4 separate regions of the Homo sapiens genome follow, and regions 2, 3 and 4 are each linked to region 1. Evidence: fine-mapped expression QTL. A gene starts in region 1. Each other region holds a variant in brackets. All regions are shown on one strand. Distances are from middle to middle.

Region 1 (6,024 bases):
GAGCCTCTGAAATCTTTTTTCTTCTGCTACTTTGTTGTGGACCTGGAGTTCAGTAGCTAAGTGTCACAGAATTATGTGCAAAGCAAGAGTAAACCGGTTCTGAGCAAACACCTGCAATGGAAGAACATGACACTTGGGACAGCCTTTTCAATTTTCCCCACAACCTTTTAGGAACTTCCTAATTTAAATCAATTTCCTGAATGTCTGCTAGGATGGTGCATAATTAATGCATGGATCTTGTTATAACTGCGGATCACCAGCATGCACATAAATCAACAGAAAACATGCAAATGTGCATTTTAAAAATGCTTACATGATTTTAGCTTTTATACATTGGGTACCACTCTCCAATTTTAACTATTAAAGAACATTTGTTAAATGATCGCGATGTATGACATTTTGAGGCTGCCAGTAAACGGATGAGCTGGTCTGTTTATCTTCACAACTATCTGTTCACTTGTTCAATACACATATATGGAGCACTCCCTTTGTGTCAGGCTCTGAGCTGGGGGTTGAGGCTACAAAGTTGACTAAAACATGGCCTTTATGGAATTTTTTCTTTTAAACGGATATATCTGTAAATAGGAGGGTTTGAATTCTCTAGGCTTATGTGATGTTGTAGTGCTTGGAAAAATGCAGTGATGTGGTATTATATTCTGCCCAACTGATGTAGTCTGTAGGGCTAAGGAATTTAAAATCGTTAAGACATTTGGCAGTTCACCAGATGCCATTTCCAGCACCTTCCATCTGCCACGAATGGATGTCCATCAGAAGCATTGGAGCTCAGACACCTTTACTCGTAACTGCTCATGAATCTTTGGCATTCTGCCATATTTTAGAATAATGTTTAGTTTCTATGCAGTAAGTCAGTGGAGTGAATCTTAGGTTTGTTTTTCAATTTGGAGGTTAGTGATAGGTTGGCAGGTTTGCGTGCAATCACCTTTCTTTTCTGGAGTCAAATTTCTTGAATACAGACTGTGGGACTGGAGCTGCCAATACCTTTATTTAGCAAGTGTGGGCCTAATAATCATAGCAATCAATGAACTGTCACATCAATAAATAACATCAATAATATCCAGCAGTGGCTGGGCGCAGTGGCTCACACCTGTAATCCCAGTACTTTGGGAGGCTGAGGTGGGCAGATCACCAGAGGTCGGGAGTTCGAGACTAGCCTGACCAACATGGAGAAACCCTATCTCTACTAAAAATACAAAATTAGCCAGGCATGGTGGTGCATGCTTGTAATCCCAGCTACTTGGGAGGCTGAGGCAGGAGAATCGCTTGAACCCAGGAGGCAGAGATTGCGGTGAGCTGAGATAGCGCCATTGCACTCCAGCCCGGGTAACAAGAGCGAAACTCCGTCTCAAAAAATAAAATAATAGGCCAGGCGTGGTGGCTCACGCCTGTAATCCCAGCACTTTGGGAGGCCGAGGCGGGCGGATCACGAGGTCAGGAGATCGAGACCATCCTGGCTAACACGGTGAAACCCTGTATCTACTAAAAATACAAAAAATTAGCTGGGTGCGGTGGTGGGCGCCTGTAGTCCCAGCTACTCGGGAGGCTGAGGCAGGAGAATAGCGTGAACCCGGGAGGCGGAGCTTGCAGTGAGCCGAGATCGCGCCACTGCAGTCCCGACTGGGTGAAAGAGCGAGACTCGGTCTCAAAAAAAAAAAAAAAAAAATAATAATAATAATAATATCCAGCAGTGTTGTTCTGCTATAATCTGCAGCCCTTCATAGTCCAAATGCCATCCTGTGGATTTTCCATTTTTTCCTTTCTTCCCCTGTGCCAAGAAGTGTGTTACTATGAGATCATGCTGAGTCAAAATAATAGTAACAGAAGAAGACGATGAGGACGAGGGTGCTGTTGAAACACTCATGGCTGAGGAATTTAATGTTGTAAAGGAAAAGAAACTCTGGCTGACACATATCTAAAGTGAGAGTCCTGTGCTGAGAAAAGCTAAAGAGATTAGCTAAGAAGTGCCTATATTTAGATCTGCTATTGAGCTGGGAAGCGGAGGCACAGTTGTGCTGAAATACCTCTGTACCCCATGAAACAGTGGCTGCTCTGAGCTTCTTGGGTCCCTCTTCCTCTCAATCCTGGTGACTGCAGCCCCTTCCCTGGGACCTCATCCCCAAGATCCAATAACTAAAGGATAACTCGTGGTATAGCAGGGCCTCCGCTGGCATTTGTTCCAATGGGTAAATATTCATGCTATAGTAGTTATTAAATAGTTTGGTGCTCAGTTCTGTGTTTGTGAAAACACTACACACTACATCAGCAGAATAGGCTAGGTTAGCTGCAGAAACAAATGGCCCTACACTCTCAGTGGTTGATGACAGCAAACATTTATTTGCCACTCACACTCCATGACCATCAAGGATCTTCCATGGCTCTGCTTCATGTCTTCTCCATGCTGAGACGAGGTTGCTGGAGCAGCCTGTGTCTGGAGTCATCAAGGGAAAGAGAAGGGAAAGAGAATGAATGGTGGCCCCAGTACTGGCTCGGTAGGTGCCAAGCCTACGTGGCACGTGGCACCTTTGCACACACTTCATTGTCTTATTGCTCTCCAGAGCAAGTCCTTGGCCATGCCTGAGTTAGCAGGGCAGGGACACTTCACGGTGCTGAGTAATACTACCTAGTACACGCACAGCATTTTGAAGGTTCCCCTTGGTGATTTCATTACAATCTTCATCGCTCTTGGCCTGGCTGTCCCCCTTTCTTGTAAATTATTCTTGAGTTAATAGCTGTTCTTTGAGATGTGGTTAGTCATTTACACTGAAGTCAATGTGAAACCCTTCACAAATGTGAGAACATTTGAATATTTGAAGGCTGTAGTCTCTGTAGGGAGTTTCCTTAGGAAGGGTGAAACATTTCACCAGCATCAGCCTGGTCTTTCCTCCAGCTAAAAATGTAAAATGTTGGCATAGAAGAGCTCCTTGATGTGGTTTTGGGGTGGCTTTGCTCCCTGGGTCCCTAGTGATGTGGGAGTAGCCACCGAGGCATGTAAGGCTGGCCACACAGGGTGCACTGCGTCAGCCTGTGCCCGACAGGAAGGGAAGAGAAATACGTCAGTTACTCTAACAAGAAGAATTGACTTCCTTCTCTGCAGAGCCGGCTCTGGTCTCTTCTCTTGAAGCAGATGCGAAGGTAGGATGAGAAGGCATGGCTGGCCGTTGCAGCAGGTCGTTTTAGGAGTGGGGGAGTGGGGTGGGTAGAGATTATAGTTATTGTAACTTTTCTTAAATTTATGACATTGAAAAGGTAGGAAACAAAACATAATAAATTAGATAAAAGATATCTTGTAATTTTATTGAATAACATACATTTAACATTTGAGATAATAATGATTTAAGTGATATGGTGGAAGTGACTTCAGAGTTAATTAAAAACCAAAACAAAACAGAAAAACACTATCCAAAAGCTATATGGTGTGATTTTTTTTTTTAAAGGGTAGAGTGTCATTTGCTTTCTTCTTTGGTTTGCAAATTCTTATACTTACAGTTTATTACTATTTTGCTCTCTCTGAATCGACTTTATTGTTTTGATCATCCGTAATTTCTCGTTTGGAGGTGGAACATAAATATCATTTTGGAATTATAAAAAAGTTAGCTAGGGTCTAATTTAAATTTCTTTTAATTAAGCTTCCTTAATCTCTAAATTGCTTGGTAAGAAAGAGACTATGAGAGGAAAGTGCACATTAGATATTAAAGATTTATTAAATTAGAATTGGGCTGGGTGCGGTGGCTCACGCCTGTAATCCCAGTACTTTGGGAGGCCAAGGTGGGTAGATCCCTTGAGATCAGGAATTTGAGACCAGCCTGGCCAACATGATGAAACCCCATCTCTAAAAAAAAAAAAAAAATACAAAAATTAGCTGGGTGTGGTGGCAGGCACCTGTAATCCCAGCTGCCCAGGAGGCTGAGGCACGAGAATCACTTGAACCTGGGAGGCGGAGGTGGCAGTGAGCCAAGATCCTGCCACTGCAATCCAGCCTGGGCAACAGAGTAAGACTCCGTCTCAAAAAAAGAAAAAAAGAAATTAGAATTGGTGTAGAAAAGATTATTTAGCCAAGATAGTTGGAGATTCTAACTTAGCTGCTTTGCCTAAATGAAGCATAAGGTTTTGGAGTTAAACAGACCCAGTTTAGAGTGTGAGTTTAGGTAAGTTACTTAATCACTCCAAGACTCACTCTCCTCATCTGTAGAATGGGTACATTTACTTCATAATGTGGCAATAAGGATTAGTAGAGATAATGTATGCAAAGTACTTAAACTATCTGGTTCAGAGTAAGAGCTAAATAAATAGTAGCTGTTGGCACAACAGAAAGCATAACAACAATTGTGAGTAGTACCTAGAAGGATATAATAATATTAATTCTCGGCCGGGTGTGATGGCTCACGCCTGTCATCTCAGCACTTTGGGAGGCCTAGGCGGATGGATCATGAGGTCAAGAGATCGAGATCATCCTGGCCAACATGGTGAAACTCTACTAAAAAATACAAAAAAATTAGCTGGGTGTGGTGGCGGGCGCCTGTAGTCCCAGCTACTCAGGAGGCTGAGGCAGGGGAATTGCTTGAACCCGGGAGGTGGAGGTTGCAGTGAGCTGAGATCGCGCCACTGCACTCCAGCCTGGTGACAGAGCGAGACTCCATCTCAAATAAATAAATAAATAAATAAATAATAATATTAATTCTCATTTCTTTGCTCTTCCATACAAAGAGGTCAAGTTTAAAGTATGAATGCCATGGCTTCCTATTTCAGTCATGAATTCCTATTTCTGATTCTAAAGTAATATTTTTTGTTGTTTTTGGGTGGTAAAAGGCTCCCCGAATGAGAAAGAATACTCGGAATCAGCGGTGAATTGCAGTGATCTTTCAGAGAAAGCGCCTGTTCAACTTTGTCCTCTCTCAGGTAGGCTTCAAGTTTTATAGATTCAAGCCCACGTGTGAGTCTTCTAATGTTTTATTTATTTATTTATTTATTTTTATGTATTTTTATTTTTTTTTATTTATTTGAGATGGAGTCTCACTCTGTTGCCCAGGCTGGAGTGCAATGGCACGATCTCGGTTCACTGCAACCCCTGCCTCCCAGGTTCAAGTGATTCTCCTGCCTCAGCCTCCCCGGTAGCTAGGATTACAGGTGCCTGCCACCATGCCCAGATAATTTTTGTATTTTTAGTATAGATGAGGTTTCACCAGGTTGGCTAGGCTGGTCTCAAACTCCTGACCTCAGGTGATCCACCCACCTCGGCCTCCCAAAGTGTTGGGATTACAGGTGTGAGCCACCGAGCCCAGCCTGTTTATTTATTTACTTATTTTATTATTATTATTTTTTGAGACAGAGTCTCACTCTGTTGCCCAGGCTAGAGTGCAGTGGCTGCAATTTCAGCTCACTGCAAGCTCTGCCTCCCGGGTTAACACCATTCTCCTGCCTCAGCCTCCGAAGTAGCTGGGACTATAGGCACCTGCCGCCACACCTGGCTAATTTTTTTGTATTTTTAGTGGAGACAGGGTTTTAACATGTTGGCCAGGATGGTCTCCATCTCCTGACTTCATGATCCACCTGCCTCGTCCTCCCAAAGTGCTGGGATTACAAGCGTGAGCCACCACGCCCGGCCTTATTTATTTTTTTGAGACAGAGTCTCGCTCTGTCACCCAGGCTGGAGTGCAATGGCGCGATCTCAGCTCACTGCAACCTCCACCTCCCAGGTTCAAACAATTCTGTCTCAGCTTCCCGAGTAGCTGGGATTACAGGTGCCCACCACCATGCCCGGCTAATTTTTGTATTTTTAGTAAAGACAGGGTTTCACCATGTTGGCCAGGCTGGTCTCAAAACTCCTGACCTCGTGATCCACCCACCTCAGCTTCCCAAAGTGCTGGGATTACAGGCGTGAGCCACCGCACCCAGCCGAGTCTTCTAATGTGAAGTAGAGATATCTGAGGGACCTGAAACTTGTACAACTTGTGGAGACTTTGGGAAAACAAAGAGGGAACCAGGTACAGGGCATCTAGGGCCTTGGAC
Region 2 (6,024 bases), 66 kb before region 1:
TTACAGAATATATAAGACAGAGTCTCTATAGTTAATGCCTTCTTGGGCCCATGCATGTAGAGAGTGCTCTCATTGAGAGCCTAGCAGGGTGTTTCCTGTGGAAACCCTCTGTGTTGTATGCCAGTCATGCTGGTTGACTTGTGTTGGGAAGTCGTGAAGCACAGCAGAGTGGATATTCTGTGTCTGTGTTTGTGTGTTTATATCTTCTACTTACACATTGTATAATCTCTAAAGAAAAACCAGGTGAATTAAGGTCATCTCCGTGTAATGTGTGAGTCTTTCTTGGAATTTGGAAAAAAATACTAAATTATCAATATTGCTATAATCTGCTTTTGTCCTTTTCTGTTACACTTTAGGACCTAAAGTGATCCAGACTTCTGCGGCTAATTTTTCACTAAATAATAGCAAAAAGGTAAGACTGGGTCTGAGTGGCAGCTGGGTGGTGGGGTGCATTATAAACCTCAGGTCACTGAGAAATGGTTCCGCTTAGAGTCTTTAAGGTAGCCTTCCCTTGCCTTGCGGCTTCTCAGGCAACACATTTCTTCTTCCATTGTCAGCTGCTGGCATCTGGGTTCTTGTTTGCTAAAGTCACCATTTCTGCTGTAATAAACACCTCAGTACTTAGGAAGATGGTGGTGTTACCTCTTAGGGAGCAGTTGTTCATTTCCAAAGAGTGGCTAACTCATCCTGATTCCTTGCCTCTGTAAGTCCTATCAGATTGTAATTTTTAATAATGATACCACTTAGGTGTCTCATCTTATATTTGCCCAGGTTAAGAATTGGCCTCTGTCAGATTTCTAATGGTACATTTCTTTCTAATGATTACTTTGTATTCCTTGTGTGAACTCAATTTAAATGAAAAATCCTTTAAAAAATACACCTTAACTTGGCCAGGTGAGGTGGCTCATGCCTGTAATCCCAGCACTTTGGGAAGCTGAGGTGAGCTGATCACGAGGTCAAGAGATTGAGACCATCCTGGCTAACATGGTGAAACCCCATCTCTACTGAAAATACAAAAAAATTAGCTGGGCGTGGTGGGGGGGCGCCTGTAGTCCCAGCTACTCGGGAGGCTGAAGCAGGAGAATGGTGTGAACCCGGGCGGGGGAGCTTGCCGTCAGCCAAGATCGTGCCAATGCATCCAGCCTGGGTGACAGAGTGAGACTCTGTCTCAAAAAAAAAAAAAAAAAAAAAGCCTTAACTTTTTTACCACCTTTAGAGAAAAACAGAGCTTCTTTCAATTGGAGAATTTTGGTTTCCTTGAATAAATACTAACCTGTGAGAGCCCAGACAACTAAACCTTTTTTTGTGTGTGAAACATAACTTTACCTATAAACTGAACACAGTTGCCCTGTATCTTCGAGGCACCATGATATATATAGTTTAAATCTGATTGTATGACCCCAAATCCCCCTTCTCTCTGTTCTCACACTTCCCTGCTAGTTTTCTACCCTTATAATTTTGCAAAAAGTCAAAAGAAGAAAAAGTACTAAAACTTACACCATTTGATTTTTCTCTTTGCTACTGCTAGTTTGAAAGGGCCCTCTGCATAGCCTGTTTTCACATTTCCTTTGCATTGCTTTATTTTCTTTCACTGTTGGCGTGATGATCTGATTTGAGGAGGTGCCGCCGTGGGCTTTCCTGATAGTAGTTCATCTTTTACAGTTTCTGTCTCTCAGGGTGTGAGTCTCTCTTTGACACTGAACACAGCAGCCATTCCACTGAACTGACTTGCTTCCAAGAGACCATCCTCACTTCACTAAGACAGTAGCTCATTCCTGGAGAGATTTCCTGCCTTGATGGTTTTTAGGCAAATCTTTAGTCCTAGGGAGTTTTATTGAGACCCTGACAGAAGTATTAAGACACAAAAACACATTCACTTGAGACTAGCCTGGGCAGCATAGGGAGACTGTGTCTCTACAACAAATTTAAAAATAAGCTGGGTGTGGTGGGGCATACCTGTAGTCCCAGCTACTTGGGAGGCTGAGGTGGGAGGATCTCTTGATCCTGAGAGGTTGATGCTGCGGTAAGCCATGATTGCACCACTACACTCCAGCCCTGGGTGACAGAGCACGACCCTGTCTTAAAAAAGAAAAAAAAAGAAAAAACCCATTCACCTCCAAAGACGATGCATTCAGATAATGCTTTTCTTTGGAACCATGGGTGGGCTGCTTCAGTAACTCTCTCTGTGGCCTGCTGCTATTAAACACCAGTATTACGTCTTTCAAAAGATACTGCAGAAGAATCACTGGCAACATCATCACCTCTAATTTTTCTCCCCAGGGGTGTTAAGATTTTCTTTCAGAAGGCTAAAAATAGCAGACGTCAAAGAGCAATTTGCCTGGCATATGGATACTTCAGAAATAATTCTTGGCCGGGCGCAGTGGCTCATGCTTGTAATCCCAGCACTTTGGGAGGCCGAGGTGGGCTGATCATGAGATCAGGACTTCAAGACCAGTCTGGCCAACACGGTGAAACTCCATCTCTACTAGAAATAGAAAAATTAGCTGGGTGTGGTGGCAGGTGCCTGTAATCCCAGCTATTTGGGAGGCTGAGGCAGGAGAATCACTTGAACCTGGGAGGCAGAGGTTGCAGTGAGCCGAGATCACGCCCCTGCTCTCCAGCCTGGGTGACAGAGCTAGACTCCCGTCTCAAAAAATAATAATTCTTGAGATATATTATCTTGTAAATATGAAAGCATTCCTTTGGTATTCTTTATTGTCTTAGTATGTATCTCATCATTCTGCTCATTTTATTCTTTTTCCAAGATGGTTTTTTTCTTGATATTTAAGTAAGTGTATTGTCCCCAAGGGTCCCAGTGTGAAAAATGTCTGCTTAGAGATTTCTGTGAGAGACAGACGTGAATTGCTGCTGGAAGTTAGTCGTTTCTTCTTCTGAAAGGCAAAATGTCACTTATGTTCTTGAAAGGAAAACCTCATGGCCGGGCGCAGTGGCTAATGCCTGTAACCTAGCGCTTTAGGAGGCCGAGGTGGGCGGATCACCAGGTCAGGAGAT[C/T]GAGACCATCCTGGCTAACACGGTGAAACTCCGTCTGTACTAGAAATACAAAAAATTAGCTGGACGTGGTGGCGGGCGCCTGTAGTCCCAGCTACTCGGGAGGCTGAGGCAGGAGAATGGCGTGAACCCAGGAGGCAGAGCTTGTAGTGAGCCGAGATCGCGCCACTGCACTCTAGCCTAGGCGACAGAGTGAGACTCCATCAAAATAAAAAAAAGAAGGAAAACCTCACATATTTCTGTTTCAAAGCTAACACTGAAGCCTTTATTGCTAAAAGTAAACTTTGTGTGTTAAAACGATGAGGTATTTGGTAGACTCAATGAAAAGGTCACATGGATTACTTTGTTTTTTTTTCTTCAGCTAAAGCCAATTCAAATACTTTCAAATCCACTGTCTACATACAATCAGCAACTATGGCTGACATGTGTTGTTGAGTTGGATCAATCAAAAGGTATGGAGCTTGACATTTTGGAATGATTTTTCATTATACGAAGAAACATCGTATTTTAGATGTTGACTTCAGAATATTCAGACAAGCAAGTGCTCAAAGATAGATGTATAAGGATGTCCATTATTATTTATCATAGCAACAAATTGGAAACCCCTTAAATGTCTTCCAGTGGGAGAGAAAGTTGCGATAGATAGACGTCCTCCGTGGAGTCCTGGTTAGCTCCGCTCAGTGGCTGCATGGTGTCGGCGCTACAGCTGCCAGCCTTTTTCAGTGAGGATCTGGGAGAGAATTAAGACCTGATGCCCTAAAATAATGGTTCTGGCCCCCAGGGACACTTGCCAATGTCTTGAGACAATTTCGTCACACACGGAGAGGAGGAGGGAGTGCTCCAGGCATCTAGTGGGTAGAGGGCAGAGGTGCCGACACCTCCCCCACTTTCACAACAAGGAATTATCTGGCCCAAAATGTCAGTGATGCAGAGGCTGAGAAACCCTCCCCTAATGCATCCATTGTTTATGATGAATTAGCTTCTGTCAGTCTACAGTGGCACTAGTTTTGTATCATCCTAGGGAGAATTGAGAAGATAACCAAATCCTTTTCTGTTCTGTGCCTCACATGAGACACTCTGGTTGAGAAAGAATTTGAAAAGATAACCCCATGACCACAGTAAATGAAGTGAAACAAATATATATTACGAAAAAATTATCCCCTCTTTGTAACATTTTAGAAAGCAAAAAATTCATATTACTACGTATTTGTCTAGAAAATGGTCTGGAAGGATAGACATGAAATATGAATTACGATTATCTCTAGGTGAAATTCTCAGTATTTAATGCTATCTTTATATTTTATGATTTTTTTAAAATGAGAATATAATGAGAAAAACCTATAATCAGAAGAAATAAGAAATCTATTTCTATTTTTGGTATAGAATTTGGTAAGTTAAAAATGTATGTGAGAAATTAAAAATATAAGTTCATTAGCCATGAAATATTTACCCTTTTTTTGTGTGTGAAGTGAAACTGATGGGTCTGAAGTGCAGGTTTTGACATAGACCCCCTGGGTGCTGGGTTGGAATCTAATGGAAAGGCTTTTACTTTGCTGGGCAATTAAGAGATTTTCAAATGTGCTGAGGCCAATGTGGCCTAAGGACCTTAAGCGTTTTCCTGGCTCCAAGGTCATTACAGAGCCAGGAAGGCACCTTTGTAGGTGTGATGTGCCTGGCATGGTCTCTAACACTGAATTTTTTTCTTTTGTAGAAACTTCTATTAAGACAAGCTTTCCCATGACTGTTAAAGTCGATGGTGTAGCTCAAGATGGAACCACGATGTACATTCATAACAAAGTTCACAACCGGACAAGGACCCTCACATGTGCAGGGGTGAGTGTGTGGGGTGAGCCCCACAGTCAGTCCTCAGGCTGTGTACACGTTTAATTACAGAGCCACTTTCCAGTCTAAAAGATAGCATGGTAAGAGGCTTCGAGAAATTGTTCTTAAGTGAAAAAAATGGAGTCATACCAAAGATGGCATGAAAAAACTTACTTATTTTTACAGTTGGATACCCTTAAAAATTCTTATAAACGTACACATGCATTCACACATCCGTAAACACACGTGTACGCACATATGCATGCACACACATATACTGCTAGCCACCCTGAGCATACACGGTACTTGTTTTTACTGTGTGTGTGACCTTCTGCCCAGTGTGTCCCTAATGAATGTTATGGGCTGCCTCCTCATACGAACGTCTGCCACAGGCTGTGGTCACTGGGTTTTTTTGTTTTATTTTGTTTAGAGACAGGTTTTTGCTCTGTCAACCAGGCTGGAGTGCAGTGGCACAATCACAGCTCACTGCAGCCTCAAACTCCTGGGCTCAAGCAATTCTCCTGCCTTAACTTCCCAAGTAACTGGGACTGCAAGCGTATGCTACCAGGGCTGACTAATTTTCCATGGTCACTCTTGACTGAGGCTTTGGGTTGTTCCCAGCCGAGTGATGCATGCCCTAATCCGTCTGTGTGAAGCCAAGTACCTGGGCCTCTTGGGCGTCAGGGGCCTACCTTTTTGAGCATCTACTTCAGAGCACAGTGTGGCTAAGGGATAGGAAACCTGGGTCCACAGTGGGGAATGAGCCCTCACGCTTGATTTCATTGGCACTGTATTCTGTTCAGAGTCCAAAGAATCAGAACCAGATCCCTGCTAGAGCGAGGAGTCCACCTCAGGCACAACAGGTTACTGGCAGCGTGGAGAACTTGGAGAGCATCAAAACAGGGCAGTGCATTTTCTTATAGGATTAGGAAAGTAATGTCAGAAGCCAGATGGCAAGTAGTTTCTCTGCTGGGTGTCATGCCAAGTACCGTCCACTCATTGTCTCATTCAGTCCTCATGGCAAGTCCATGAAGTAGAAACTACTGTTAGAGCCTATTTTGTAGAAGAAGAAACTGAGGCTTAGAGAGGTCTAAACCATTGCCCAAGGTAACGCAGATATTAAGTGGAGGGCCCAGGATTTAAACCTGTGCCCTTTTATTCTGAAGCTTGTGGCCTTAACCACCATGGATACTG
Region 3 (6,024 bases), 25 kb after region 1:
AACCTGGGAGGCGGAGGTTGCAGTGAGCTGACAGCGAGACTCAGTCTAAAAAAAAAAAAAAAGATAATTATTTAAATTATTTAGCCAATCATTTTGAAACCTCTATATTTTTATAATTATTATCTATATGTTATACAGCATCTCTTTCCATAATTATTTTTGTTACCTTCAGTGTTTTCTGATTATATTTACAACAATATTTTAAACCAACTTTGCATTTTATAACTGATTCAAGTGCTCATTGCTAGTCTTTGGAGACCATGATTTCCCAGTTTGCAAGTTCTTTATTTTGATTCATTTTTCAATCACTTGAATTGCCTCCTTAAGAAGTTTTTCCTCACACCTGTAATCCCAGCACTTTGGGAGGCCGAGGTGGGCAGATTGCCTAAGCTCAGGAGTTCATGACCAGCCTGGGCAACACAGTGAAACCCTGTCTCTACTAAAATACAAAAAATTAGGTGGGCATGGTCGTGTGTACCTGTAATCCCAGCTACTTGGGAGGTTGAGGCAGGAGAATTGCTTGAACCCGGGAGGCGGAGGTTGCAGTGAGCCGAGATTGCACTACTGCACTCCAGCCTGGGCGACAGAGCAAGACTGTCTCAAAAAAAAAGTTTTTCCCCAGGAGAGGACTGTGAGTGGTGTATTTTCCACGTCATTGCGTATTTGAGAGTTGCTTTCCGTGGTCTTCCTTCATGAGGAATGATTTCACTGGGTTTTAAGTCCTGGGTTGCCACTGTTTACTCAGTAAATGCAGCCATGTTGCCTTTTGGAATTTAACATTATGGAGACAGCTGATGCTAGTTTTATTTTTATTTCATTGTTTATCTCCTGATTTTTATGTAGAAGAAACATACTGGTTTTTTTGTTTCTTTTTTTTTTTTTTGGCAGAGACTGCAGCCTTATTCTCTTTTAAAACTTTTTATTTAGTTGGTTTTTAATTTTTTTAATTTAATTTTTTTTTTGAGACTGAGTCTCACTCTGTCGCCCAGGCTGGAGTGCAGTGGCACGATATCAGCTCACTGCAACCTCCGCCTCCTGGGTTCAAGTGAGTCTCCTGCCTCAGTTTCCCTAGTAGCTGAGATTACAGGTGTGTGTTACCACACCCAGCTAATTTTTTGTATTTTTTTGTAGAGATAGGGGTTTCACCTTGTTGGTCAGGCTGGTCTCAAACTCCTGGCCTCAAGTGATCTGCCCGTCTCGGCCTCTCAAACTGCTGGAATTTCAGGCGTGAGCCACCTCACCTCACCTAGTTAGTTTTTTTAGAGACAGGGTGTCACTCCGTCACCCAGGCTAGAGTACAGGGTGTGATCATAGCTCACTGCAGCCTCCAACGCCTGGGTTCAAGAGACCTTCCTGCCTCAGCCTCCCAAATAGCTGGGACTCCAAGTACGCACCACCACATCTGGCTGATATAGATATGTTTTAAGACAAGGTCTTACTATGTTATCCAGGCTGGTCTTGAACTCCTAGCTTCAAGTGACCCTCCTGCCTTGGCCTCTCGAAGTGCTAGGATTGCAGGTGTGAGCCACCATGCCCAGTTATTTTTTTTTTCTGTATCCTTTTTATTAAAAACAGTTTCTAATATGTGTCTGGGAATGATGTTTTTGTGGATTAAGGGCCGTTCTTTTGAGCTGCTCCCTCTTGGGTCTCCTGGGTTTTTATTTCGGTTTAACTCAGTCATGCTTTCCTCAGTCAAGTCTGATTGTTCTCAAGATGCTTTCATGCCACTTACACAGCTTCTTTGGGAATAGCATTTTTTTTTTTTTTTTTGAGACGGAGTCTTGCTCTGTTGCCCAGGCTAGAGTGCAGTGGGGCGATCTCGGCTCACTGCCAGCTCCACCTCCCAGGTTCACGCCATTCTCCTGTCTCAGGCTCCCGAGTAGCTGGGACTACAGGCGCTGGCCACCATGCCCCCCTAATTTTTTGTATTTTTAGTAGAGACGGGGTTTCACCATGTTAGCCAGGATGGTCCCAATCTTCTGACCTCGTGATCCACTGCCTCAGCCTCCCAAAGTGCTGGGATTAAAGGTGTGAGCCACCACGCCCCGCCAGGAACAGCTTTGAAGGCATAAGTTGGCTTCCTTTTCTCTTTGTATTAATAATCTTCTTCCTCGGGCCGGGCGTGGTGGCTCACACCTGTTATCCCAGCACTTTGGGAGGCCGAGCTGGGCGGATCACTTGAGGTCAGGAATTCAAGTCCAGCTTGGCCAACATGGTGAAACCCTGTCTCTACTAAAAATACAAAAATTAGTTGGATGTGGTGGCACATGCCTGTAATCCCAGCTACTCCGGAGGCTGAGGCAGGAGAATCGCTGGAACCTGAGAGTTGGAGGTTGCAATGAGCCGAGATCGCACCACCGCAGTCCACCCTGGGCAACATAGTGAGACTGTGTCTCAAAATAATAATAAT[A/AATAATAATAAT]ATAATAATAATAATAATAATAATGATGATGATGATGATAATCTTCTCCCTCAACATTTAATGTCTTTTTCTTTCTCTTTCACATTCTGGCAAGTGTCTCTGCCAAGTCAGCCTCACAGATTCAACTTTCTAGCCTGCCATTTCTGCTCTTTTCTGCTGATGAAACAGTTCATTCTGCTTTGGCTCTGTTAGTTTATGAAATATTCCCTTATTGTAGTCCCACCGTCTCTTCATCCTGGCTCTTCCTTCTATCTTGCTGTGTCTTTTTCTCAGAGGTGGGTCTTAAATGTTTTTGGAGGCTGACTGCTTTCTGAAAGTTCCCTCTGGTTCCACGGTGATGCACGGTCACAGAGGCTGCTGGCCTGGTCTTCTGGACTCCATGTACCCTGACTATGGCATTTTATCGGAAGCTCTTGGTTGTCTCTTTAGAAAGCCAGGTTGAGCGGTTGCCCACAGAGAGCGTGTGCTCCTGCTTTCGGCCTTCTCATCGCCCCTCTGTCGTGGTGGATCCCCCTTCTTAGGTCTACAGGGAGAGGACAGGTCGGGGCACAGCATCTAACCGTTTTTATTGCCAAGGCCTTAAACAAGTACGGCTCTGTCCAGCTGCAGTAGAATTTTTCCTAATTTCATTGACTGGTTATCTGATATAACAGACCAGGAGTCACAAACTTGACATCAACAGACGACAGACAGGGCACAGACCTTGTTTGTTCTGACCTGCGCAGTGTTTAATATTGATCATTTTAGTGCTTCAAAATGGGTGTGTATCCTCTGGTTAAGCAAGTTCCCACCCCTCCCTGTTGTCTCCCCTCCCAGCCCCCTTCCCTCATTTACAGTTTCTGCTTGGGCCCTCAGTGTGTGGCCCTGCCCGACACAGTTAGAGGGTGTGACACCTACTCTATGTACATATGTAGAAAGCTGAAACTGGATCCCTTCCTTACACCTTATACAAAAATTAATTCAACATGGATTAAAGACTTAAATGTTAGACTTACTCAATTTCAGTGCACACTGCTACAAGGCTACACCTATTTTGGATCCCACCTTATCTCTTTAATTCTAAGGATGCCCCCCTGCGGAGGGGAGGATATTCATTCATTCACTGGGGCTGTAATGTGCCTGGCCAGAGCTTGTAGCTGTGAATATAGCACTGGATGTGACAGAGAGGGGGGCACCTGCCTTCTCTCTGAGGTTAAGCAAGGGAGAGTTATTCGTGTTTTGTAAGAAGTGTTGGTAACAGCTTGATAAAAACCCTTTCTTTATCTTCATCTTGATTCTCTGACTCCTTTGATAGTTACCTAGGATTCAATCACAATGATCAGTCTTTTTTTTCCTGTAAGGATGTGGAAATCAGATCAATTGAGCTAGTGGAAAAAAACGAGTATTTTGCTTTGTAACTATGAACCATTTTAGATGCGAGACTAGTTGAAGTAGGGCCGGTCACAGTGGCTCACGCTTATAATCCCAGCACTTTGGGAGGCCGAGGTGGGTGGATCACCTGAGGTTGGGAGTTCGAGACCAGCCTGGCTGACATGATGCAATCCCATCTCTACTAAAAACACAAAAATGGCCGGGCGCAGTGGCTCACGCCTGTAATCCTAGCACTTTGGGAGGCCAAGATGGGCGGATCATGAGGTCAGGAGATCGAGACCATCCTGGCTAACATGGTGAAACCCTGTCTCTACTAAAAATACAAAAATAAATTAGCCGGGCGCGGTGGTGGGCACCTGTAGTCCCAGCTGCTCAGGAGGCTGAGGCAGGAGAATGGCGTGAACCCGGGAGGCGGAGCTTGCAATGAGCCAAGATGGCACCACTGCACCCCAGCCTGGGCGACAGAGCGAGACTCCATCTCATGGATAGGAAGAATCAATATTGTGAAAATGGCCATACTGCCCAAGGTAATTTATATCCCCATCAAGCTACCAATGACTTTCTTCACAGAATTGGAAAAAACTACTTTCAAGTTCATATGGAACCAAAAAAGAGCCTGCATTGCCAAGTCAATCCTAAGCCAAAAGAACAAAGCTGGAGGCATCACACTACCTGACTTCAAACTATACTACAAGGCTACAGTAACCAAAACAACATGGTACTGTTACCAAAACAGAGATATAGACCAATGGAACAGAACAGAGCCCTCAGAAATAATGTTGCATATCTACAACTATCTGATCTTTGACAAACCTGACAAAAACAAGCAATGGGGAAAGGATTCCCTATTTAATAAATGGTGCTGGGAAAACTGGCTAGCCATATGTAGAAAGCTGAAACTGGATCCCTTCCTTACACCTTATACAAAAATTAATTCAACATGGATTAAAGACTTAAATGTTAGACCTAAAACCATAAAAACCCTAGAAGAAAACCTAGGCAATACCATTCAGGACATAGGCATGGGCAAGGACTTCATGTCTAAAACACCAAAAGCAATGGCAACAAAAGCCAAAATTGACAAATGGGATCTAATTAAACTAAAGAGCTTCTGCACAGCAAAAGAAACCACCATCAGAGTGAACAGGCAACCTACAGAATGAGAGAAAATTTTTGCAACCTACTCATCTGACAAAGGGCTAATATCCAGAATCTACAATGAACTCAAACAAATTTACAAGAAAAAAACAAACAACCCTATCAACAAGTGGGCGAAGGATATGAACAGACACTTCTCAAAAGAAGACATTTATGCGGCCAAAAAACACATGAAAAAATGCTCATCATCACTGGCCATCAGAGAAATGCAAATCAAAACCACAATGAGATACCATCTCACACCAGTTAGAATGGTGATCATTAAAAAGTCAGGAAACAACAGGTGCTGGAGAGGATGTGGAGAAATAGGAACACTTTTACACTGTTGGTGGGACTGTAAACTAGTTCAACCATTGTGGAAGACAGTGTGGCGATTCCTCAAGGATCTAGAACTAGAAATACCATTTGACCCAGCAATCCCATTACTGGATATATACCCAAAGGACTATAAATCATGCTGCTATAAAGACACATGCACACATATGTTTATCATGGCCCTACTCACAATAGCAAAGACTTGGAACCAACCCAAATGTCCAACAATGATAGACTGGATTAAGAAAATGTGGCACATATACACCATGGAATACTATGCAGCCATAAAAAAGGATGAGTTCATGTCCTTTGTAGGGACATGGATGAAGCTGGAAACCATCATTCTCAGCAAACTATCTCAAGGACAAAAAACCAAACACCGCATGTTTCTCACTCATAGGTGGGAATTGAACAATGAGAACACATGGACACAGGAAGGGGAACATCACACACCGGGGAATGTTGTGGGGAGCGGGGAGGGATAGCATTAGGAGATATACCTAATGCTAAATGACAAGTTAATGGGTGCAGCACAACATCATGGCACATGTATACATATGTAACACACCTGCACGTTGTGCACATGTACCCTAAAACTTATAATAAAAAAAAAATGAGCTGGTTGTGGTGGTGGGTGCCTGTAACCCCAGCTACTTGGGAGGCTGAGGCGGAAGAATCACTTGAACCCGGGAGGCAGAGGTTGCAGTGAGCCGAGATCATGTCATTGCACTCCAGCCTGGGTGACAAGAATGAAACTCTGTCTCAAAAAA
Region 4 (6,024 bases), 110 kb after region 1:
AGAATGCACATTTCTTTTTTTTTTTTTTTTTTTGAGACAGAGTTTTGCTCTGTCACCCAGGCTGGAGTGCAGTGGCCCGATCTTGGCTCACTGCAAGCTTCGCCTCCCTGATTCATGCCATTCTCCTGCCTCAGCCTCCCGAGTACCTGGGACTACAGGCACCTGCCACCATGCCCGGCTAATTTTTTGTTTTTTTTCTTTAAGTAGAGACAGGGTTTCACCATGTTAGCCAGGATGGTCTCGATCTCCTGACCTCATGATCCGCCCACCTTGGCCTCCCAAAGTGCTGGGATTACAGGCGTGAGCCACCACGCCCGGCCCAGAATGCACATTTCTGTTGTGTATTTTGCTGACTCCCTATTTGGCTAGAAGAGGAAATTCTGCTACCCAAGTTCACGGGGTCACCAGCAGACCAGCAGCAAGTGCCCCATGGCCATCCCAACCTCCTAGACAGGGTCTCGGGGCTCTCACTTTCCCCCAAACTTCTGGCTACAACTAGACTCAAACTTCGGCATCTTCCCTCTCCTTGCGTTCCTCTTTACTCTTTTCTAGGATCTTAGTAATCCCTCCATCCTGTCCTCCACCTGACCACAGAGCGGCACGGTGTGGGCAGCGCCACAGCCTGTGGGCAGGGCCAGCAGAGCCCACTGCACCACTCCCATCTGCTCTCTCGGGGTCTGAGGGCTGTAGCAGATTCTCTAGCTGAGCTCTCGGTTTTGGGGTGGTGGTACTGCATACTAACGTATCAGGAGACATGGTTTGACAGTGAATACTGGCTTTCCTTCCAGGGACAGATCAGCCATCACTTCATGGTCAACTTTGTTTGGTAGTGCTAGGAGCCAAGAATTTACCTGTGCGGCCAGATGGCACCTTGAACTCATTTGTTAAGGGGTAGGTATTCGATGTAATCAAATATTTATTGGTGATCTAGTATACATCACAACATGGCCCAGAACCTGCAGCGAACACTAAAAAACGTAAGCCACTTAAAACGTCTTATTTTAGCTTTCCTATGAAAATCTAACAACACATATTAAAGACCCTGATTTCCAAAAATTCACGGGATGTGTACATGCTGGAGTACTCGAAACCCTAATCTTCTCAGTTCTGTGATATCAGGAAGCCAGTTTTGAAATCAAGCATGAAAATGTGGTGTGGTCAGTAAATATTTCCTAAGCTTAACATCTCCTCTTGGACCAACAGTAAAACGCATGACTGTCCACATTTCATTCTCATTCAGTATAGGTGCATTGGCCCCTCTAAAAGTAAGGCAAATACCATTATTACATTGAATTGCAAACTCCCCGTCAGTGACATAGGGAAAAATGACGGTCAAGATAGAACTCAGGCTGGACGCAGTGGCTCGTGCCTGTAATCCCAGCACTTTGGGAGGCTGAGGCAGGTGGATCACCTGAGGTCAGGAGTTCAAAACTAGCCTGGCCAACATGATGAAACCCCATCTCTACTAAAAATACAAAAATTAGCTGGGTGTGGTGGCGGGCACCTATAATCCTAGCTGCTCTGGAGGCTGAGATAGGAGTCTTCCTTGAACTTGGGGGGAGGAGGTTGCAGTGAGCTGAGATGGTGCCACTTCACTCCAGCCTGGGCGACAGAACAAAACTCCGTCTCAAAAAAAGGAGAACTGAGCTTATGTTCTAATCTTGTTGCTTATCTGCATGGCCTTGGACAAGCTTGTCTGAGTTGATTTTCCTGAGAACAGGGTTAAAAGGAGATAACGTGTATCTGCAGTCATGGTGGGAGGCACCCCAAGGAGGAAAGATTAAGATGAGGGCCACGAGGCCTCAGCATGCAGCTCGCCCTTCATACCTGATGCAGAATTCGGCCCTAAGGGAAATGTGCCGAGTCCTGTGGTTCCCACCCTGCTTCACTGGGGAGGGTGTGGATGTTGTGGACTTGGCACTTTTCTTAGTGCTTCCCGTCTGCACTGACGCACAGGCCTCAGGAGAGAAGGCCGTGTGGATGGCAATGATTGCAGGGTTTGTGTTCCCTCTTCAGCTGTCTCACTCTGCCAGACCAACAAAAACTGAGACTGAAGTCGCCAGTCCTGAGGAAGCAGGCTTGCCCCCAGTGGAAACACTCATTTGTCTTCAGTGGCGTAACCCCAGCTCAGCTGAGGCAGTCAAGCTTGGAGTTAACTGTCTGGGATCAGGCCCTCTTTGGAATGAACGACCGCTTGCTTGGAGGAACCAGACTTGGTTCAAGTAAGTCTGAGACATTGAGCCCAAACGTTTATACTTTGTGATTATCCTAATGGGTACCGTGCAAAGAAAATGCTTCCACCAGGGCAGTGACTTAACTGGTTTTGAAATTGCCTAGCCTGCCTTAATTGGAAATGCCTAAGTCTAGTTTTTACTCTACAGCTGAGCCATAATACAGCCAAGTATTTTGACAATTTAAATCAGATTTAGATCTGCTAAAGAAACAAAAATTATAGGCCTCCAAACGGGCTAGGTACAGTATTTGCTTTTGTTTCTGGCGTCAATCATAAAAGGATTATTTTCTTAAATGAAAATATCTTCTTAAACAAATGGCAATTCAGAAAGTACTTCATCAAAAGTGGTCAGAACAGCAGTGCTGTCCAGAGCCGCTCGGCAGGGCACCGCCGGCATGGTAGGTGGACAGCCCTCTGCTGTGAGGTTCTGTGCCTGGCACTGCTTCTGGCTGCCAGCAGTGTCCCTGACATGATGACAACCAAAAACACCTGCACACATCTCCAAGGACCTCCAACTGAGAACCAGTGACTGAAGAGAAATAAGCTTCACTGCTCCATTGCTTTTCAAAGATATTTTGTCCAAAGCATACTGTCTTCCTCTAAGAATCCCTTCCCATGGGCAAGCCCAGCCCCCAGTCTGAGACGGCCCCACCCAGCTAGCCATGCTGGTGTGCAACTATCCACTCCCTTGGTGAAGACCCAGCCCACCAAACCAGAGTCCTCGCCTCACTTTCAAACTACAGAACTCCAGGCTGTTAGAGCCTCGCAGAGCAGAGGATGCCTGCGTGAATCCCAGTCTCAACACCAGCTTTGTTGGGGTGGGAGTGGTGGTGGCGGCGTCTGTCATCAGTGGTTGGCCTTTTAATGTGGACTTGAGGTGAAAAACTTCTGGCTGGTCATCATTTTTAAAGGGATGAGAGGGGATGAAGTGGTGCCCTCCCCGACCATGGCTAAATTGTCTTCCTCTCTTACAGAGGGAGACACAGCTGTTGGCGGGGATGCATGCTCAC[T/A]ATCGAAGCTCCAGTGGCAGAAAGTCCTTTCCAGCCCCAATCTATGGACAGACATGACTCTTGTCCTGCACTGACATGAAGGCCTCAAGGTTCCAGGTTGCAGCAGGCGTGAGGCACTGTGCGTCTGCAGAGGGGCTACGAACCAGGTGCAGGGTCCCAGCTGGAGACCCCTTTGACCTTGAGCAGTCTCCATCTGCGGCCCTGTCCCATGGCTTAACCGCCTATTGGTATCTGTGTATATTTACGTTAAACACAATTATGTTACCTAAGCCTCTGGTGGGTTATCTCCTCTTTGAGATGTAGAAAATGGCCAGATTTTAATAAACGTTGTTACCCATGTCCTCCAGTGCTTATCAAATGAGGTAAAAGGCCGGCTGGTGGGCATGGTAACTCCCCCCTGTAATCCCAGCAACTTTGGGAGGCTGCAGTGGATGGCTTGAGCTCAGAAGTGTGAGATCAGCCCAGGCAACATAGATACCCTGTCTACAAAAAAACCAAAAAATTATCCAGGTGTGGTGGTACACACCTGTAGTCCCAGTTACTCAGGAGGCTGAACCGGGAGGATTGAGCCCAGGAGGTTGAGGCTGCAGTAAGCCCCGATCATGCAACTGTGCTCCAGCCTGGGCCAAAGTAAGACCCTGTCTCAAGGCGGGGGGGGGAGTCACAGCTTCGCTGTGAGAAGCACTTTATTTTTTGAGACGGAGTCTCCCCGTCACCAGGCTGGAGTGCAGTGGCACGATCTTGGCTTGCTGCAAGCTCCGCCTCCCGGGTTCTAGCAATTCTCCTGCCCCAGCCTCCCAAGTAGCTGGGATTATAGGTATGCACCACCACACCAGGCTAATTTTCGTATTTTTAGTAAAGATGGGGTTTCACCATGTTGGCCAGGATGGTCTCGATCTCCTGACCTCGTGATCCGACCACCTCGGCCTCCCAAAGTGCTGGGATTACAGGTGTGAGCCACTGTGCCCGGCTATGAGGAGCATTTTAGAGGAGCCTGATGAGTGTTGGAGCAGTCTTTCTCTCCTGTGGAAACCATCTCGAGGAGGTTAGGTGACCCATGGAGCACCATGTCTTGGGTTGGTCAGCTCCAACTTACCAGTGTACCCCCAGGGACACCACGGCCCCTCACGAAACCTGGCCAGAGGACAGCATAGAGCCCAGACGAGTCGGCGGTAGCCCTCCCACCCCACACACAAGCACACACCCGTGCTGCTTCGTGCCTTTGCAAAGCTTTTATTTCATGTCTGCGGCATGGAATCCACCTGCACATGGCATCTTAGCTGTGAAGGAGAAAGCAGTGCACGAGAAGGAATGAGTGGGCGGAACCAACGGCCTCCACAAGCTGCCTTCCAGCAGCCTGCCAAGGCCATGGCAGAGAGAGACTGCAAACAAACAAACACAAGCAAACAGAGTCTCTTCACAGCTGGAGTCTGAAAGCTCATAGTGGCATGTGTGAATCTGACAAAATTAAAAGTGTGCATAGTCCATTACATGCATAAAACACTAATAATAATCCTGTTTACACGTGACTGCAGCAGGCAGGTCCAGCTCCACCACTGCCCTCCTGCCACATCACATCAAGTGCCATGGTTTAGAGGGTTTTTCATATGTAATTCTTTTATTCTGTAAAAGGTAACAAAATATACAGAACAAAACTTTCCCTTTTTAAAACTAATGTTACAAATCTGTATTATCACTTGTATATAAATAGTATATAGCTGATCATTAATAAGGTGTATAAGTACAATGTATTCTAAAACTGTTAAGCAAAAAAAAAAAAAACAAAAAAAAAAATCCAAGTGTCCTCCTCCACCACTCACGCTGGTGATCACTGTGCTCTCTGCCAGCTGCGTGGAGTGACGGGAGGAGGGAATCACTGTGTGTGCGAGAGTGCTTCAGACTCAATTTCCAAAATAATTTTCACCCCTCTAAGCATGTAAATATACAAAGATGGATCCTTCATAGAAATTAAAAAATCAATTTGAGCTCATTTCGAATACAGAACAAGTATGGCACAGATGGAAGTCCTGCCACGTTTCCTTTAATGATGCTGACTCTTGTATCACACAGGCCAGCATGAAGTTTCTTACTCAGACTTTACAGGCATTTTCCGTAATTCAATCAGTCCTGCTCCCAGCACAACACAGGAGGTGATTCGAGAATAATCGCGAGAATCAGGCCTGCTTGGCACTATTACAACTGGGGAAAACAAACCAGGGCGCCTCCCTGGTTCCCAGCCCAGAATGTTTCTGTTGGGTAACTGCTTTCTAAAGGAACTGGGATCTGAGGGAGTTCCTAGACTTGGAGCACTAAAGACACAAGCGTGGCGGGGCTGGCAGCGCCCGCTATGAGCACCCCTCTGCCCTTGGTCCTGGCCTGGCTGTTACAGGGCCTCGAACTCGTCGATGCGCTGCTTGGTGTTGCCCTGCCGGATCTGCCGCAGCGTCTTGTACTTGTCCCGGCCTTGCCTCATGTTCTCGTTGTGGATGATGTCATTGTGGGTCCTCTTATTCTCATCTCGGGCCTGGGACAGCTCGCTGCTCAGCGTCTGTAACATTAAGCAGCATTGGTCTAGTCCCTTCCTCCCCATATGGCCCGGCCCGTCCCCTAGGAAAACAGGAAGGGCAAGAGGGGTGCTGGGTGGGGCTGGCTCACATCACTGCCCTCCCCAAGCCTGTCTGCTCCAAAAGCGAGGCAGGCTCCCTGGAGACAGAGCCCCTTGGGCCTCACCAGCAGCTGCCGCTGCACACGCTCGTTCTTCTCTGCCTCAGTGATGCGCTT

Which allele goes with the higher level. Positions count from the first base shown, and alleles are read on the strand shown. Sizes are in standard deviations (SD) of each study's normalised expression. Not every link is listed here.
For the expression in Th2 cells of the gene that starts at base 3,126 in region 1, AATAATAATAAT is the high allele of the variant in region 3 and A is the other (large effect, 1.0 SD a copy in Schmiedel 2018).

The links. PIP is the estimated chance that this variant, and not a neighbour inherited with it, causes the effect.
Region 2: its variant is the best candidate, but not a certain one, in a credible set for the expression of SYTL3 in whole blood (TOPMed, PIP 0.74).
Region 3: its variant is the best candidate, but not a certain one, in a credible set for the expression of SYTL3 in Th2 cells (Schmiedel 2018, PIP 0.70).
Region 4: its variant is the best candidate, but not a certain one, in a credible set for the expression of SYTL3 in whole blood (TOPMed, PIP 0.66).

What each region holds. Positions count from the first base shown.
Region 1 is chr6:158,646,929-158,652,952 of GRCh38, forward strand. It overlaps SYTL3 (synaptotagmin like 3), which reads left to right and starts at 3,126. Exons shown (of 18, transcript NM_001242394.2): 1 at 3,126-3,150; 2 at 4,825-4,914.
Region 2 is chr6:158,580,584-158,586,607 of GRCh38, forward strand. It overlaps TMEM181 (transmembrane protein 181), which reads left to right. Exons shown (of 17, transcript NM_001376852.1): 3 at 357-412; 4 at 3,371-3,461; 5 at 4,721-4,842. Among named protein-coding and RNA genes, the nearest start is that of TMEM181, 24 kb to the left of the region's middle. The variant C/T (reference allele first, on the strand shown) is at 3,013.
Region 3 is chr6:158,671,688-158,677,711 of GRCh38, forward strand. The region is part of intron 5 of SYTL3 (synaptotagmin like 3); the gene reads left to right. Among named protein-coding and RNA genes, the nearest start is that of SYTL3, 25 kb to the left of the region's middle. The variant A/AATAATAATAAT (reference allele first, on the strand shown) is at 2,411.
Region 4 is chr6:158,761,288-158,767,311 of GRCh38, forward strand. It overlaps SYTL3 (synaptotagmin like 3), which reads left to right. Exons shown (of 18, transcript NM_001242394.2): 16 at 789-891; 17 at 2,017-2,222; 18 at 3,208-3,584. The coding sequence ends at 3,317. EZR (ezrin) reads right to left here. Exons shown (of 14, transcript NM_001111077.2): 13 at 5,974-6,024; 14 at 4,461-5,791. The coding sequence ends at 5,627. MIR3918 (microRNA 3918) reads right to left here and starts at 3,466; the gene lies at 3,374-3,466. RefSeq lists a silencer at 1,570-1,864. The variant T/A (reference allele first, on the strand shown) is at 3,244.